Linked DNA regions of Homo sapiens: region 2 is linked to region 1. The links come from fine-mapping of genetic effects on gene expression. A gene starts in region 1. The other region holds a variant in brackets. All regions are shown on one strand. Distances are from middle to middle. Region 1 holds the start of RECQL5 (RecQ like helicase 5). Region 2 overlaps MYO15B (myosin XVB).

Region 1 (10,742 bases):
TGTAATTTTATATATTTTTAATAATTTTGACATGACGTTGTGCACATGTACCTAGAACTTAAAGTATAATAAAAAATATATATTAAAAATAATAATAATAATTTTGTGCATGAAAAAACAGTTTTGGCTGAGTTTTGACCGCAACCCATCACATGAGGTCAGAAAGGTGTGGAACTTTCCACTTGTGGAATCACGTCAGCACTAAAATTTTTTGGATTTTGGAGCATTTCAGATTTCAGATTTTTGCTTTAGGGATGCTCAATCTCTATGGAAGGTGAAGTGGTTTAGAGCACAGGCTCTGAAGTCAGACAGACTTCAGATTTAGATTTCATCCTGGCTCACTTAATCGCCACATGCTCGCTGGCTGTTTCTTACCCTCTGAACGATTTATACAATTCTATCTAATAGCATTGTTGTATAACTTAAAATTTACATCTGAGAGGTGAAATTAACGTATGTAAGCCGGGCGCGGTGGCTCACACCTGTAATTCCAGCGCTTTGAGAGGCTGAGGCGGGCAGATCACCTGAGGTCAGGAGTTCGAGATCAGACTGACCAATATGGTGAAACCCTGTCTCTACTAAAAATACAAAATTAGCCAGGCATGGTGGCGCATGCCTGTAATCCCAGCTACTCGGGGGACTGAGGCAGGAGAACTGCTTGAACCCGGGAGGCGGAGGTTGCGGTGAGCCGAGAACACGCCATTGCACTCAAGCCCGGGCAACAAGAGCGAAACTCCATCTCAAAAAAAAAAAAAAAAAAAGAAAGAAAGAAATTAATGTATGTAAAGCACTTAGCACGAAGCCTGGGACCTGGTGAACATTCACCAAGTTATTACTGTAGTTCCCTCTCTACCTTCCTTCATGGTGGATGGCTCTTACCCACACAGCCACACTTCCTCAATTCTGATTCTATCAGCCCATCTGCAGGCCTTAAATAGTCAGAACACCTGTAGAGCAGATGTTAATAAGGTCCCAGACAGTTTCTCATCTTTTTTTCTGTTTCACATACTGTGCCCTTACCAAAATAAGCAGGACACCAGGGATTCCCCATATCAACTTAGCTATCTATCCATCTGCAACTTCTGTCTCAACATCACGAGTGCACGTGTGTGTATACATGAGACTGAGTGTATATGTGTGTACAAATACAGTTTCATACTCCTCTGAACAAAAAAATAACAAAGGAGGGTGAGGGACCTCAGAGGAGTCATTCATAACCTCCCAGAGTGATATGCACCAGTGGAGAACACTACATTGGGGAAATACAGAAACCCAATATAGCGAATGAGATAGGCAAATCATAGAAAATAAGAGGCAGGGGCGGGTGTGGTGGCTCACACCTGTAATCCCAGCACTTTGGGAGGCCGAGGTGGGCGGATCATTTGAGGTCAGGAGTTTGAGACCAGCCTGGCCAACATGGTGAAACCTCATCTCTACTAAAAATACAAAAATTAGCCGGGTATGGTGGCATACACCTGTAATCCCAGCTATATGGGGGGCTGAGGCACAAGAATTGCTGGAAGCCGGGAGGTGGAGGCTGCAGTGAGCCAAGATCGCACCACCGCACTTCAGCCTAGGCGACAGAGTAAGACTCTGTCTCAAAAAAAAAAAAAAAAAAGGAAAAAGAAAAAGAAAAGAAAATAAGAGGCAAAAGACCAATAGAGAAGTGAAATTTCCAGCCTCAAAAAACCTTCCCCGAATCTTTTTGGGCTACCATCTTCATTGCCCTAAGCCTCACCTGAATCAAAGCAATGAGAGGAGAGACTACAATGGTGATGCCTTTGGCCAACAGAGCAGGGAGCTGATAGCATAGGGATTTTCCTGCCCCTGTGGGCATGCACACAAAGACGTCCTTGTTACCTGAAAAAATACAAGACAACAATATCTCAGTGCTTCCTGCCTTTTCATTGAAGTTGTTGAAAATTAAATGAGAATGTAGGAAAAGCACCTAGCAGAGTGTCTGGCACATGGGAGGGTCTCGATGTAATCCTAATTCCCCTCCTGTCCTTTCTATGAAAAAGGCAAGGATCCTGGGAAACTTGGATACATGCCCAAACCATTTCTAGTAATGGTTAAAAACAAGATTTAAAAAGTCTGGGTCAAGCGCAGTGGCTCACGCCTGTAATCCCAGCACTTTGGGAGGCTAAGGCAGGCAGATCACGAGGGCAAGAGTTTGAGACCAGCCTGGCCAACATGGTGAAACTCTGTCTCTACTAAGAATACAAAAATTACCCAGGCATGGTGGCACGTGCCTGTAATCCCAGCTACTCAGGAGGCTGAAGCAGGAGAATTGCTTGAACCCAGGAGGCGGAGGTTGCAGTGAGCCGAGATCGCGCCACTGCACTCCAGTGTGGGCGACAGAGCAAGACTCTGTTTCAAAAAAAAAAAAAAAAAAAAAGAAGTCTGAGTCTGCTGTGATATGGATGATTGAACTAAACAGCCATGAAAGCAGAGTACTGCTAGATGAGTGGGTACATCTGTGTAGACATGAGAGGACATTACTTAGAGGGCTTTTGTTTAGACATGTATCATTAATATTACATTGCTGCTCGCCTCTTGGCAACTTCCATTTGTCACCGTATCTCAGGTTTATAACATTATTACTCTTTCCTTCTCTATCTGGGACCAAGGCCACTCAACCTGCAACAAGGGAATTACCTAGGAGGCCAGTGACCGAGTTAAGTTATTCCTACCACCCTCACTGTTGCTGTTCGTTTGTGTGTACAAACGAACAATAATGAGAATCTGAAGTGTTTTCAAAGACCATGTGTAAATCTAGCTATGAAATATAGACCAGCTGGGTGGTTCTGCCACTAAAACTACAAGCTTTGGGCCGGGCGTGGTGGCTCATGCTTGTAATCCCAGCACCTTGGGAGGCCGAGGTGGGAGGATTGCCTGAGCCCAGGATTTGGAGACCAGCCTGAGCAACATGCCAAGACCCCATCTCTAATTAAAACAAATAAACGAAACTACAAGCTTTGACAACTCTAAAGATTTCCAAATCCAGTTATGGACCAAAGGTGAGGCAGTACGAAGGGTGAGGAGGAGGGTGTTCTGCCGCAGCGTTATGGTATAGCCAGCATAAATTTAAAGGAAGGTAGCTTGGTAATGTTACCTTTTACTACAGCCATGGTCGCACTCTCCTGTAAAGGCGTCTTAAAAGAGTCAAACCCAAAGACCTTCTTCAGCGTACTCCGGACTCGCCGCTCAGGGTCAAAAGGAAAGGTGGTATGGTGGCTGCTCATCTTAGCCAAGAACAGTGGCCAAAGGTTAAGGCAAAGGTAGTAAAAGGTTGCCACGAGAACCCTCTGTTTTGCATTAAAAATACAGATTATTTTTCTGTAACAATTTGCTATATTACACTTAAATAATGTATTATTTTTAAGTAATAAAGCTGAAGGTGAACTGCCTCAAGCAATACATTCCTCAGTAATTAACATCTCCACTTTTACGCTCAATGAAAATGAAAACATTGAACTATTCCAGGCCACGGTATAGCACAGAGCTAGAAATCAGATCAAGAGAAGAAACATAAATGTCTTCAGAACAGCTTGGAGAACGGGGAACCGTTTTCCTAAGATCCACCACCTGCTCCTACTTCTATAAGCGCAACCACGACGACCGTTCTTCCACCCCGGGACCCCGAACCCCTTCTCCCGTCTTCCTGAGCCCAAGATCCGCAATTTTCTCTCTTGGCTGGCCGACACCTCCCTCTCTTCACCCTAAGATATCAGAACCGGCCGTGGTCCGCCCAAGAATTAAAGGCTGCTGGCTGGTTCCGGAACTGTTCGAAGACCCCTATACACAACCCCAACTCAGAGAAGCCAAAGCGCTGGGAATTCAGCTTTAGGCAGAACCCACGCAATCTTATATCCGTCGCGCAGTGATGACGTAGCGCGAGCGCTGGCATGAGGGCGGAGCCAGGCGCAGGAAACTGCCGTTTTGATTGGTTTCCAGTGTGGCGCGGGGGTCTCCTGGGATCCGAAAGAACCTGCCTTTCCGCCCGGAAGTCGGCGTCTTGAGTCATAGGAGTGAGCCACGCCCGGGCTGTGGGAATAAGATGGCGGGGAAGAAGAATGTTCTGTCGTCTCTCGCAGTTTACGCGGAAGATTCAGAGCCCGAGTCTGATGGCGAGGCTGGAATCGAGGCGGTGGGCAGCGCGGCTGGTAAGGCCCAAGTGCGAAGCTGGAAGGGGGAATCGGGTGTCTGCCCGGAATGCTGTACCCTCGCTGGGCGGGAGGGAACAAGATGGTCATTGTGCTCCAAGCACCGGACCCCGAAGAATGGTCCAGGGTCCGGGGTGAGATAGAGCATTAGAGACTGTGGACTAAGAATGAAGAATCTCCTTCCCGTTATTTCGATTAATTTGCCTAAACTTACTGAAAGACTCCGTGCCGGCTATAGTGATAGACAGAGGGATGGACGAAGAGGGAGCGGCTGCTCAGCCACTGCCTGTTTCCCCTGGGCTCGTTGTTTGATGAGGGAGAGCGATAAGTAAAACATACGTGGAAGATGGTAAAGATTGTGTTCGTTAACTTTATAACTTTTAGTTAGGAATGTGCCCTAAACACATCTTGGAGCTTTTAAAAACAAACGTATCTGATGCCCAAAGTGAGAGAACCTAATTCGGTAGAACTGGGGTAGGATGTGGGCATTTGTGAACTTTTTAAGGATCCCAGGTGATTTTTCTTATTTTGTGAGTTTTTAAAGCCTAACGGTGATGTTCTCCTCCTCAGGTTGAGAAGCACAATGTTAGATAATGGAAACAGATTCCTTTGGGAGAATAAAGAACAAGTTACCTAACAACATATCAGGACCTTAGCTTCCTCATCTGGAAAGTGAAGGGGATTGGATTAGGTTAGGTACTTCCATGTTTTGTGATTTTGTGTGGTCTCTTCCAGTCAGAAAGTTCTCTGATGGTTTCCTATAAACACTTTAGTGTTTATCTAGTGTTTATAGCATTAGAAACAGAATTTAGTACTCGGTTTTGTTCCCTGACCTTTTAATGATTTTATTCAGTAAATGCTGGCCTTCTCAGAGAGCCGAATCTGGGCCTATTGTAACTTAACATGAGATTTAGGTTCCCTTTGTATCTTCAGAGATAGTCTTGGCCACTCAAATCTCTGGACATTTTTTCTTACATTGTAACTCTTGTTTTTTTTTTCTTGCTTTTTGTTTGTTTGTTTGTTTTTTAACCTTTCAGAGGAGAAAGGCGGATTGGTATCTGATGCCTATGGGGAGGATGACTTTTCTCGTCTAGGGGGTGATGAAGATGGTTATGAAGAAGAAGAAGATGAGAACAGTAGACAGTCGGTAGGTAAATCTCCCAGATCCAGAGCTACTGAAAGCACAATTTCATTTGTCAGATTTTGGAACTGTGCCAACAGTGTTCCATTTCATGGTTAGCTCCATCCCTTGCTCTCCCGTTTTGTTTTAGTATTAGTGGAAGAAACTGGATTGGATATCAGATCTGTTTGAAAATGTATTTTCACATGGATCATTTTTTATTAATCTTTGAATTGAAATTTGGGGGAAAAGATAGTGGATTATTTTATTTAACCCAGATATCAATGGGTGTTTTATGTTGATTTTTCCCTGTTTAAATGATTTACTCCATTTATAGCAGGCATTCATCCTAACTGGTGTATCATTTATATCTACAGTCAACTCTGCATTATTTTTAATCTTGGTTGGGGCTCATTTAAGTCTTCTCAGTTTATTAACAAGATAAGAAAGGAAAATTCGTTTTCACCTGCTTTTTCTTTTCTTTTTTTTTTTTGAGATAGGGTCTCACTCTGCTGTCCAGATTGGAGTGCAGTGGTGTGATCATAGATAGTTCACTACAGTCTTGAACTCCTGGGCGCAAGTGATCCTCCCACCTCAGCCTACCCAGTAGCTGGGACTACAGGTGGGCGCCACCATGCCTAGCTAACCTATTATTATTTTTTTTTGTCGGAATCTTGCTCTGTCGCCCATGCTGGAGTGCAGTGGTGCGATCTCTGCTCACTGCAACCTCCACCTCCCAGGTTCAAGCAATTCTCCTGCCCTCAGCCTCCTGAGTAGCTGGGATTACAGACACCTGCCATCACGCCTGGCTAATTTTTGTATTTTTCACAGAGACGGTTTCACCATGTTGGCCATTCTGGTCTCTAACTCCTGACCTCAGGTGATCCACCCGCCTCATCCTTCCAAAGTGCTGGGATTACAGGCGTGAGCCACTGCTCCTGGCCGATTTTTAAAATTTAAAAAAAAATTTTTTGTAGAGACGTTGTTTCACTATGTTTCCCAGTCTGGTTTCAAACTTCTGGCCTCAAGCAATTCCCCTGCCTCACCCTCCCAAAGTGCTGGGATTACAGGTATGAGCCACCATCCCTGGCCTTCTTAACTTCTTTCTTGACATTTTATTTGGCACTTTTTATAATGGTGCCCTTAGTTCTTGATCACAAATCTTGCCTGAAGTTCAGTAGGTGCTGGAGAAAGGAGAACCTGTGCTATTATTAACAAGAAAGTCTTTAGACACATAATCACCTGAGCAACATGAGCCAGAATTTAAGTTTGCAGAAAACGCAAGGAAATTGAAGTTGGTGCTTAGCATAAGACAGGCAGAGTTGAGTCTAGATGTCAAATCTGACTGCTTAGCAAGTTTTAATTAAATCACTTAAAATATATTATTTGTTTGAAATTTTTGTTACATGTTGGTATGTAAATGTTAGCATTAAAATTCTTTCCAGCCAAGCACGGTGGCTCATGCCTGTAATCCCAGCACTTTGGGAGGCTGAGGTGGGCGGATCACAAGGTCAGGAGATCAAGACCATCTTGGCCAACATGGTGAAACCCCATCTCTACTAAAAATACAATAATTAGCAGGGCATGGTGGTACGCACCTGTAGTCCCACCTACTCGGGAGGCTGAGGCAGGAGAATCGCTTGAACCCGGGAGGCGGAGGTTGCAGTGAGCCGAGATCACGCCACTGCACTCCAGCCTGGGCAACAGAGCCAGACTCCATCTTAAAAAAAAAAAAAATTATTTCCACAACAAACAGAAATGCGTTTTGTACATGATGCATTTTGGGAGATACTTTCATGCCTTTAGCCCCATCCATTAATATTGATAATTCAGAGTTGACTGAAATTATTCAGAAAAGTTTTGCAAGTTGTTTTCTGACTTTTCTGAAGTACACACATTCTGGCTTAATATTCATAACTCTTTTCTTTAGTACGTTTGCATAATGTGTTTTTGAAGTGTTATTTCATATTTGCTTTGCTTAGAATTTTCATCATGTTTAAGCTTCATTTCATATTTTAGTAAAATCCTCTCATCAGATCTTGTTGTAGAGATTCTGAAATGTGATTGTATTTGTCTGAGCTCCATCTCTGTTTATTTGGCATGACTGATTTCATTTTAAGGAGATTATGGAGATTGCATTTAAAGCCTTGGACTCACTGGTACCTTACAGGACAGTTAAGTCTCCAAATCATGAGTCTAGTTTGTTCAAGTCTCTCGAGTGGTATTTATATTAATATATGGAGTGCTGTGTAATGTTTGGGCTGAAATGTAGCTTTGTTGAAAATAGTAGTTTCAAATGAAACCATTTTTTCCTGGGTATTTAGTTAAAGGCTTCTGTGCATTGGGAGTGTTCTGGGTAGTGGAGGTGACATGGATTTAGCCAGCTAATAAGGTAGCTGGTCCAGCATCTGCTCCTGATCTTTGACCTTCATAGCATCAGCGTTAGCGTTCAGTGGAATGGCGGGCTCGCTTTGGAGAATGCCTTACCGTGTGTGATCCTTTGTGTCAGGCTGACCTCATCTGGATAAGGAACAGGACTGGGTAGAATGGATCACTGGCAGTTCTGTGAGCACTTAGGTGGAGGCAGAGCCCACTCAACTGGGACTCCTGAAAGGTTGGGCATTGCCCTTTAGTCCTGCCTTTCCCAGGTCACTTGCTCAGGTAGTTTGATGCCTGCCTTCCTGTGTTGATGTTTGTGCAAATGCCGGTTGAGGTGCTGCGATACAGCTGTGTGTAAGCCTTGGCACTTGGTGTTGGACACTGTTAGAGTAGGTCCGAGTCTGATGTACATGTGTATATGAAAAGGAAAGAAGGCTCATAATCCTGATTTGAAATAACTGATACTTCAGTGGAAACACGATGCCTGTTTTATTGTGTGGCCTGATCTTACTCTTTCCTAAAACATATTGCAAGCTTTCTCCATTTTTATGTATGTGACTTTGAACTCGGGCATCTTCATTGATGTGGACTGTCTCACCACTAAAGTAACTTGACTTTGAGCTGCTGATGCTTTTTTGTTTTTTGTTTTTTTCCCCTCCAGAATATCTCTTTTTCCCCTTATTTTTCTCTGGTTCTGAGTTATATGGTAGGGGAGGGATTCTTGGTGGGATGACCCCAGCTGGGTAAATGGGCTGTTTGCTCCGGCCCCTAGTTATGCATGTGAGACTCCTCAGGCCCGCTCCTTTAAGCTTAATCCTCTAAATTCTTTGTCTTGTAGGAAGATGACGATTCAGAGACTGAAAAACCTGAGGCTGATGACCCAAAGGTATTTGGTGTTGGCTGTGGTGGGTGGCTGGATGCAAACAAGGTGTTTGAACACTGTGGCTCAGTTCGTATGTTTGGTCAAGATCTGTCCCACTGACAAACTGTGCAACTGTGTGGACATTTTCTGGGATAAAATAAGCTTTATAAAGAAAGAACCTGGAGACAACTCAGGAATGAACAAATCCTGAGACACATTGGATTTCCAGCCTTTCAGATTGTGCCATATCTCCTGACTAGAAAGGCGAGAGGCCTGGCTGAGGCCAACAACCCACTTGCATTCTGCATCCCAGATGGGGCTTTAAGTGTCACTGCCCTGCAGGTGGATTAGTCTGTTTCTAGACCCAGGAAGGTGTAAGGGCCGCCTCGCGTGCTTTGGGTTCTCTTTAGTCATCTAGAAGTGAACAAGAGGCTATAAGAAGGTCAGACCAAAATGAGGCCTCTCCCCAGCTCTCAGGGATGGTGGGTCTAATGCTCATTTTCCTGGGGGTGTGTCCATCCACTTTTGGGCAAGCTGTACAGAATGGTCTTTTTCGGAACAACATAACTATTCTCATAGTGTCATCCTAGTAGCAGCCAAGAGTAATTTGTAGCAATTCCTATCACATTCCATAATGATCTGTTGTGAAGGTTAAGACACCCTTGTGTTGGTTAAGCTGCTGTGCTGTGCATTGGCCATTAGAAATGTGTACTTGCTGAAGAGTCATTTTTTATGAGGAAAAACTTCCCCCCTGTACCCCCAAAGAAAAAGACTTAATTATATCACTCTAGACCCGGGGAATAAGGACCCATTTTGCAGTTAAAAACTGCTTTGAGGCCAGCCGCAGTAGCTCACGCCTGTAATCCCAGCACTTTGGGAGGCTGAGGCGGGAGGATCACTTGAGGTCAGGAGTTCAAGACCAGCCTGGCCAGTATGGTGAAACCCCGTCTCTACTAAAAATACAAAAATTAACTGGTGAGACTGGTGGGTGGTGCACACCTGTGATCCCAGCTACTGGGGAAGCTGAGGCAGGGGAATTACTTGAACCTGGGAGGCAGAGGTTGCAGTGAGCCATGATCTGCCAATGCACTCCAACCTGGGCAACAGAATGAGAATCTGTCTCAAAAAAAAAAACAAAAAAAAACTGCTTGGAAACCAGCTGTAACTTTCAAGATGACCTAGTAAAATTTAGGAAATTTATGCCCAATTAAAATCTAAAACAGTAATATTCTTGAAAATATAGTGTGAGCTGTTCCATATTTGAGCTGATTCTGTGATTGGATAGAACTGTATGTAGCCACTAAAATCTTGAGACGTTGTGAGTGAGAAAGATAAGAGTGTGTTTTACCAGGAAAGAAAGTTTTGGCGCCAGCATGCAGGAGGGAAAAAAAAGAACCCCTGAAAACTGTAAATGCAACCTGCTTTCTATGCTGAGTGAAAAACCTGGAACCCAGGCCTGAGAACTCGCCCTGCCTGAGAACTGGCAAGATGGTATGGGCAGACCCATGGCCCCATAGTTCAAAGTCAGTCACAGCTCTCCTCGGGCTTGCAGAACAAAACACTCAGTAGTGATAATCTTCTCTGCCTAGTATTTAGGGTATGTGGGACTTGGAGCCTGCACGTAAAACAAGCCCAGGGAGCCGTTAAGTGTTTGGGTTTCAGTTGTGGAGGGAAGGGAGGATCTGGGTCCTAGAGTCTTTCTGGGTACAGTTGCAGCCTTTTCTTAGGGCTGGAAGGCTTCCTGGGGAAGTTGGCTGGAGAGGAGGGTACATAACACTTAACGGTCACCCCTTCTAAAATACTGTAATCCAGGCAACAAATCCTTGGGAGATGACAGGGCTTTGTGAGTCAGGGTGGGGGTCACATGAAAAACAAAACAGACTTTACTGCTGTCCAGTAGCAGTCACTAAAGAGCGGGGTGGGAGGGACCCAAAAAAGGTGAAGCTGGGAAGATTGTGGAAATGCCTTTTGTGCTCAGGCTCCCCTTCTCAGCCCTACATCACGGCTGACAGCCTCGTCATTCCTGCCTGCTCCTTGACTGATGTGCTTCGCTGTTCCTCATTCACTCATGTGCATTTCAAGTTTTACTGTGGAATGAAAAGTTTTCATGGAATAATTTCTGTTCCTCTTGAGGAGCCCTCAGAAATCAGAACACAAAATCCAACCCTCAAAGTCACTTGATATAGTTCTTTTGGAGGGTGATGGAGAAGGGTTT
Region 2 (8,000 bases), 50 kb before region 1:
TGCCCTGGCCAGCACCCCGGTGCCCGATGCTCTTCTCTGTGCCTGGGGCTGGAGGGAGGTGGCATGTGGGCCCAGGCAGGGACTGACAGGGAGGGCGTGTTCCCTCAGTGTACCCAGGAATGATTCAGATGCCTGCATACCAGCCAGGCATGGTCCCTGCACCCATGCCCATGATGCCAGCAATGGGCACAGTCCCTGCCATGCCAGGTAAGTCTGGGCTGGGGGCACCAGAGTCCCTTCTCAGGAGAGCAGCCACCAGCTCTGGGACTGGAGGAGGGAGGGTCCTGCTAGGAGTCCCGAGTGCACAGTGGGCAGCGAGCTTCAAGGCTGGCCATGGTGCCCACCACTCTGGCCGCCTGCCGCCCTCACAGCCATGGTGGTGCCGCCGCAGCCACCGCTTCCCAGCCTGGATGCAGGGCAGCTGGCCGTCCAGCAGCAGAACTTTATCCAGCAGCAGGCGCTAATCCTGGTGAGCGCTGGCAGGGCCCTGGGGCCACCTGGTGGAGGAGAGGTCTGTGGCTCGGGGATGAGGGTCTGAACTGGCTGCTCCTCCTGCTTCAGGCCCAGCAGATGACAGCCCAGGCCATGTCCCTGTCCCTGGAGCAGCAGATGCAGCAGCGGCAGCAGCAGGCTCGGGCCTCCGAGGCTGCGTCCCAGGCCTCACCCTCAGCCGTCACCTCCAAGCCCAGGAAGCCCCCCACACCCCCGGAGAAGCCACAGCGTGACCTGGGATCAGAGGGTGGCTGCCTGAGGGTGAGGAGGTGACCATATTCTCAGGAAGGGATGTGAGGGTGGGGACTGCAGGGGCAGGGGACATGGGCAGGGTGAGTAGGCAGACACAGGGAAGAGGCTGCTGGCCCAGGACTGGGGACCCGAGGGGTGTGGCGAGTGTGGCACCCAGGCTGGCTGAGCTGCCACTCATTTCTGCTTCTGCCAGGAGACCTCCGAGGAGGCTGAAGACAGGCCCTATCAGCCCAAGAGCTTCCAGCAGAAACGGAACTATTTCCAGAGGATGGGTGAGGGCACTTGGGGTGGCAGGACCGTGCAGAAACATGGCCAGTGCCCCTGGCCCGGGCCAGGGAGGGTGGGGTGTGCTCTGCTCCCCGGAGTTGGTGCGGCCCATCCAGGAGCCCAGCTGGGCCAGTATGGGTAACTTTGAAGGCCATCTGGACACTTGCAGGGCAGCCACAGATCACAGTGAGGACGATGAAGCCCCCGGCCAAGGTCCACATCCCCCAGGGGGAAGCGCAGGAGGAGGAGGAGGAGGAGGAGGAGGAGGAGGAGCAGGAGGAGCAAGAAGTGGAAACAAGAGCAGGTTGTGGGGAGCTGGGCAGGGCCTGGGGCTCCGGTGGCTCTGCACGCGGTTAACAGTCTTTCCTGTTTCCTGGTCAGTGCCGTCCCCTCCTCCTCCCCCCATCGTGAAGAAGCCATTGAAGCAAGGTGGGGCCAAAGCTCCAAAAGAGGCTGAGGCTGAGCCAGCCAAGGAGACAGCGGCCAAGGGCCATGGCCAAGGGCCAGCCCAAGGCAGGGGGACTGTGGTGCGCAGCTCAGACTCCAAGCCCAAGCGGCCACAACCCAGCAGGGAAATTGGCAACATCATCCGCATGTACCAGAGCCGCCCGGGCCCCGTGCCTGTGCCCGTGCAGCCATCCAGGTGGGCCCCCACGGGGAGGTGGCCAGGGCTGTCCCGCTCCTCGGGGAATCACCCTATGAACTTAGTGACCTCTTGCTTCTCCCACGAGGCCTCCCAAAGCTTTCCTGAGGAAAATCGACCCCAAGGACGAGGCTCTGGCCAAGCTGGGTATCAACGGTGCCCACTCGTCCCCGCCGGTGAGCACCCCAGCCTGTCTCCCCCAGAGTGTGTGCTGCTGCACTGGGGAGCTCAAGGCTCTCTGGGGCGAACTTGGCCTTGTGCTGTGACTCAGCCCGTGTACTTTCTCCGTATCCCCCCAGATGCTGTCCCCCAGCCCAGGAAAGGGCCCCCCGCCAGCTGTGGCTCCTCGACCCAAGGCCCCGCTACAGCTTGGGCCCTCTAGCTCCATCAAGGAAAAGCAGGGGCCCCTTCTGGACCTGTTTGGCCAGAAGCTGCCTATTGCCCACACACCCCCACCTCCACCAGCGCCACCACTGCCTCTGCCCGAGGACCCAGGGACCCTTTCAGCAGAGCGTCGTTGTAAGGAACCACATTTCTCCTGCGCCGTGGGCTTCACTGGGGCAGAGGCAGGGTTCGCACAGACTCTCGGTGCCCAGGGCTGAAGGCATTTCTGCGTGGCTGAGGCCAGCTGTTCGGGCTTCTGGACTTTGGAGCCATACGTAGCTGGGGAGTCCCAGCTTCCGCGTTCCCACCCAGGGCAGGGCCTGGGCATCTTTGGGGCTGTCATCGAGAGGCTGTCACACACAGGGTGTTGTCCCTGACACATACCCGACAGCTCTGTGAGGAAGTTAGTGGCCCTGGCTGACATGGTCATAGAAGACCCACGAGCCTCACGGACGCCAGGGAAAGTTTAGGGCCCAAAATGGAGGCAGGAGATGGTGCCATGGAAGGAGTAAGGCAGCTGGAGGTTGGGAGAGCCGGGCCCTTGGAAGGCTCGTGGGGATGAAGGTCTTCCCTCCCGTGCCCCCATCACTCTGGCTCTGCAGCCCCTCACTGAGGCTCCTCACCCCCTCCTCTCTGCCAGGCTTGACACAGCCCGTGGAGGACCAGGGGGTCTCCACCCAGCTACTCGCGCCCTCTGGCAGCGTGTGCTTCTCCTACACCGGCACGCCCTGGAAGTTGTTCCTACGCAAGGAGGTGGGCATGAGGGTGGGGCCTTGGCCTGGCCTCTTTGGGCTGGCAGGGAGGCGGCAGGCTTTGTGCATCCCAGCCTGGGACCCCAGCATCCCCTCCCCACAGCCCACCATCTCAAGGCTGATTTTCCAGGCCTGGGAGGGCAGAGGCTTGCTGGGAAGAGGCACCAGACCCACCGATCTTTGCCCTTCTGTGCCCTCCTCCAGGTGTTCTACCCACGGGAGAACTTCAGCCATCCCTACTACCTGAGGCTCCTCTGTGAGCAGGTGAGAGCTGGCCCACCTGCCAGCCTGAGACATCTGCAGAGACAGCATCCTTCGTGCCCTTTGTCTAATGGCTGGGCCAGGTTAACACCACGTAGGGCATGTTGGCAGCCAGCACTGGGGGGCACTTCTGTGTGCCCAGACCTGCCTTCATTGAACCTTCACAACATTCCTGAGAAGTAGGGACCATGGCCAGGTGCGGTGGCTCATGCCTGTAATCCCAGCACTTTGGGAGGCCAAGGCAGGTGGATCATGAGGTCAGGAGTTCGAGACCAGTCTGGCCAACATGGTGAAACTCCATGTCTATTAAAAATACAAAAATCAGGCGTGGTGGCACGCACCTGTAACCCCAGCTACTTGGGAGGCTGAGGCAGGAGAATTGCTTGAACCCGGGAGGCAGAGGTTGTAGTGAGCCGAGATTGTGCCACTGCACTCCCGCCTGGGTGACAGAGCGAGACTGTGTCTCAACAACAACAAGAAGTAGGGACCATTATTCATCTAGTTTTATAGATAAAGTTTAAAAGCAAAGTGCGTACAGTGCACAACACAGGCTCTAGCACACAGTAGGTACTTAATAAATGGTTGTCACTTTGCCACCTCTGAACGCTCCCAGGAGTGAGCCTCTGTTCCCCCTAATTCTGCAGTAGCACCTGCCCCCTGCCCCGAACAATCTTGTATCTGGGCTGATCCAAGGGCAGTTACCACGGGGTCTCTGGGCAGTGAGTGAAAAGGGAGGGCTGGCAGTTGCAGGGGAGGGGACAGGTGAGACGTGTGAATGGAGGTGGCCCAAGCCCTCCATCCCTCCCTGCCCCACCTAGGCCCTCTGCTGAGCACACAGGCCATGGGGGCCAGGGCGCCCTCCATCGGCCTCCTCAGGTTTTCCTTCATGCATGTGGATGGCTGCTCTGGGGGTGGGCTCTGTCTCAGGACCTGGTGGTGACCACCTCGCTCTGCCCCCAGATCCTACGGGACACCTTCTCCGAGTCCTGTATCCGGATTTCCCAGAATGAGCGGCGGAAAATGAAAGACCTGCTGGGTATGGGTCCAGGGACCATGGAGTTGGGAGCTTGAGTGCTGGGGGCCGCGCCTGCCCTGAAGGAGGGAGCAGCATGGGAGCAAACTCTAGAGCCCCCTCTGTGTGAGCAGAGGGCAGCCTGGGTCCTTCCTGCCCACAGGAGGCTTGGAGGTGGACCTGGATTCTCTCACCACCACCGAAGACAGCGTCAAGAAGCGCATCGTGGTGGCCGCTCGGGACAACTGGGCCAATTACTTCTCCCGCTTCTTTCCTGTCTCGGTCAGTGGCGCTGGGGTAGGGAGTAGGGATGCCAGGCCCCCAGCCTGGATCCTGGGGTGCATGGGCACAGACCACAAGCAGGAGAGCCGGGGAGCAGACGCCAGGGGAAGGACAAAGCCCAGCCACTGGCCCTGGGCAGCTCCAGGGCATCTTGGGCAGTAGCAGGACCCAGGAGACTGCCCGAGACCCACCACCTTCCTGTAGGGCGAGAGTGGCAGCGACGTGCAGCTGTTAGCCGTGTCCCACCGTGGGCTGCGACTGCTCAAGGTGACCCAAGGCCCCGGCCTCCGCCCCGACCAGCTGAAGATTCTCTGCTCATACAGGTGCGCTAGCCCACGACCCTGGGCTAGAGGTGGGGGCAGGTGGCAAGGTGACCTCAGTTCATGCCCGATCCCTGCGCAGCTTTGCGGAGGTGCTGGGTGTGGAGTGCCGGGGCGGCTCCACCCTGGAGCTGTCACTGAAGAGCGAGCAGCTGGTGCTGCACACAGCCCGGGCAAGGGCCATCGAGGCGCTGGTTGAGCTATTCCTGAATGAGCTTAAGAAGGTAAGTGTGGGGCACGGGTTGAGAGGCCGGGCAGACAGCCCTCACCGATGCTGCATCTCCCTGTCCGTCTTCCCTGTGGGGGCAGGGGCTGGGAGTTTGGGCCAAATCCC[TG/T]GAAGTCTGGGGTGCTAGGTGGAGGGGCAGGCCAGCAGGGGGAGCAGGTGGGCAGGCAGGACAGGGAGGCACAGGCAGACTTGCTGCTCCAGGCCCTCGCCTGCTTGCCCACAGGACTCCGGCTATGTCATCGCCCTGCGCAGCTACATCACTGACAACTGCAGCCTCCTCAGCTTCCACCGTGGGGACCTCATCAAGCTGCTGCCGGTGGCCACCCTGGAGCCAGGTATCGCCAGAGGCCGGCAGGGGCTCACACAGGGAGGGCATCCACTTGGCAGAGGCTGCCCGGGGGCAGAGGGTCCAGTGGGTGAGCCACATCCCTGGGTGCCTTCCAGGCTGGCAGTTTGGCTCTGCCGGGGGCCGTTCCGGACTCTTTCCTGCCGACATAGTGCAGCCGGCTGCCGCTCCCGACTTTTCCTTCTCCAAGGAGCAGAGGAGTGGCTGGCACAAGGGTCAGCTGTCCAACGGGGAACCAGGGCTGGCTCGGTGGGACAGGGCCTCAGAGGTGAGGAAGATGGGAGAGGGACAAGCAGAGGCAAGGCCTGCCTGAGACTGAGGAAGGAAAGGGGTTTGACCACTCCCGAGGCTGCCATGCGGTGGGACCACCCTGCTGTCCGTCTCCTGTGGCTGCCCCTCTGCCCGCTCCTGATGGCTCGCCTTGTCTCTCCAGCAAGACTGTGCACTCCTTGCAGGCAGGGGCTGGGCTGGATGCTGCTCTTGTGTCCCACGTGGTACTTAGTTCAAGGCTGCCCCAGCAGATGCTTAATAAACAGCTCTTCACTTTCCTGGCTTCTGGTCTTGCTCCTTTGGTGTCTGGCTGGGGAGGGATGGGGCTGGGGCAGGACCCCTGGGACAGGGCACTGGACACTCAGGTGGCACCAGGTTTCTTGTGATCCCAGCGCCCTGCCCACCCTTGGAGCCAGGCACACAGTGACGACTCGGAGGCCACCAGCCTGTCCTCTGTGGCCTATGCCTTTCTGCCCGACTCCCACAGCTACACCATGCAGGAATTCGCCCGGCGTTACTTCCGGAGGTCCCAGGCCTTGTGAGTGCACTGGGCCAACCCCTGTGCCTGTCTGTCCTCAGTCTTCCTGAGAGAGAGCACCCTGCTCAGAGCCACTGGGCTGTGCTCTTAGCACTCTCCCTGCCTGGCTGGCTGGGATGAAGGCAGGAGGGCCAAACAAGCTGGGCTGTCTCCCTCTGCCCCCCACAGGCTGGGCCAGACTGATGGAGGTGCCGCAGGAAAGGACACGGACAGCCTGGTGCAGTACACCAAGGTGGGAGAGAGGCAGGGAGGGGTCTGGCCCGTAGATCTGCCCTCTGACCCCCACGGCCCCCCAGACCCATGGCCTCCTCTCTTTGGCCACAGGCTCCCATCCAGGAGTCGCTCCTCAGCCTCAGTGATGATGTGAGCAAGCTGGCTGTAGCCAGCTTCCTGGGTGAGTGGCCACAGGCATCCTGGGTCCCCATGTCTGCAGTGCCATGAACCTGGGTGTCTGGTCCCCTTATCTCCTTGAGCTCTGCCTGGCTCTGTCCCAGTCTGCCAACTCCGGGAAGCTCACTGGTGGTTCCTGGACCCCAGGGCCCTCACCCGCTTCTACTCCCACTCAAGGGTTGTGGGTTGTGTGGAGTCTGGGGTTGGAAGGCAGTCCATGGGTCCAGAGGATGCTATGTGCTGTGTGGGGCCTTGGATACCCAGGAGCCTCAGTTTCCCCATGAGTCGAGCTGCAACCAGCTGCCCTGGCTGGCATCTATGCATTTTGAGAGTGAGGCATCAGATGGCAGGTGAAGGCCCTGCACAGCAACAGCATGAGCCGGGGCCAGCCCCAGCACAGCCCCAGCTATGTGCCCTGTTTCTTATCGTGCCTGCAGCCCTGATGCGGTTTATGGGTGACCAGTCCAAGCCCCGGGGCAAGGATGAGATGGATCTGCTCTATGAACTGCTGAAGGTAAGCCTGGGCTGTGCGACCCCCAGCGCCTGTGCCTGTCCTCCTGTCTGGGCCTGAAGGAGATCCCCTTCTCTTGGTCACTGTCCTTCAAATCATTCCAAAGTATTTACTGAGCACCCATTGCGTGCAGGGGGGTGTGGCTGTGAAGCCAACAGGCTAAGTCTCTGCAGTGCTTACAATGAGATAACTTATGTGTCTGGGAGTGAGAGGTCACTGGAGAGTAAGAATGCAGGGAAGGGGCTGCTGCAGTGGAGAAGGCTTTGTGGCAGAAGCCTTCCTACAGGGAGGGAAGGAGTGAGCACGGGGTGACAGAGAAGGGCAGGCAACAGTTCAGATGTGGGGGGAAGCCTCGGCACCATCACGCACCGGGACCAGCGTGGCTGAGCCTAGTGAGCTGCAGGGAGAACGGAGGATGAGGATGGGGAGCGGATGGTGGGTCCAGGCCACCACAGGCCTTGTAGCCATCATTGGCCTCTGATTTTTGGAGAGATGGGAAACCACCAGAGGATTCTGGAGAGAGACTCGGCTTACATTTCACAGGGTCACTCGGCTGTTGTTTGAGATTCTGGGTGTCTAAGTTTAAAAGCAAAAGGAAGTTATTGCAGTGGTCCCAGGTGAGGGATGGTGCTGGCAGCAAGGGAGAAGCAGAAGATTGAGCCAGCAGAGTGTGCTGACCAATTGCATGTGGGCTACGGGAAGGAGGACAACTACTGTCTTCAAGGAGCAGGTCTTGGCTGGTGGAGGAAATCTGTTTTGGACACGTGAGGTCTGAAATCCCAGACTTCCCAGTGGAGGAGTCTGGGGTTCAAGGGAGAAGGCTGGAGGCAGGCACCAGGAGTCATCAAATGGGACCAGCTGAGGACACGGGGAGAAGGGCAGACAGAGAGAGGTTCAAGGGCACAGCACCGCTCAGAGGTCAGGGAGTTAAGGTGGAGCCAGCAGAGATGAGTAAGAGATCAGAGAAGCAGGGGCCGGGCGCGGCGGCTCCCGCCTGTAACCCCAGCACTTTGGGAGGCCGAGGCAGGTGGATCACCTGAGGTAGGAGTTGCAG

The links. PIP is the estimated chance that this variant, and not a neighbour inherited with it, causes the effect.
Region 2: its variant is the best candidate, but not a certain one, in a credible set for the expression of RECQL5 in fibroblasts (GTEx, PIP 0.88).

Annotation. Positions count from the first base shown.
Region 1 is chr17:75,663,313-75,674,054 of GRCh38, forward strand. It overlaps RECQL5 (RecQ like helicase 5), which reads right to left and starts at 3,842. Exons shown (of 20, transcript NM_004259.7): 1 at 3,732-3,842; 2 at 3,116-3,259; 3 at 1,739-1,860. The coding sequence starts at 3,245. It overlaps SAP30BP (SAP30 binding protein), which reads left to right and starts at 4,026. Exons shown (of 11, transcript NM_013260.8): 1 at 4,026-4,166; 2 at 5,204-5,313; 3 at 8,504-8,551. The coding sequence starts at 4,061. RefSeq lists enhancers at 2,967-4,166, 3,748-3,847, 4,018-4,267.
Region 2 is chr17:75,615,132-75,623,131 of GRCh38, forward strand. MYO15B (myosin XVB) reads left to right here. Exons shown (of 64, transcript NM_001395058.1): 34 at 109-207; 35 at 372-469; 36 at 562-753; 37 at 938-1,016; 38 at 1,181-1,315; 39 at 1,393-1,654; 40 at 1,743-1,830; 41 at 1,954-2,173; 42 at 2,679-2,791; 43 at 2,995-3,054; 44 at 4,012-4,087; 45 at 4,227-4,345; 46 at 4,550-4,668; 47 at 4,748-4,889; 6 more. Among named protein-coding and RNA genes, the nearest start is that of SMIM5, 14 kb to the right of the region's middle. The variant TG/T (reference allele first, on the strand shown) is at 5,000.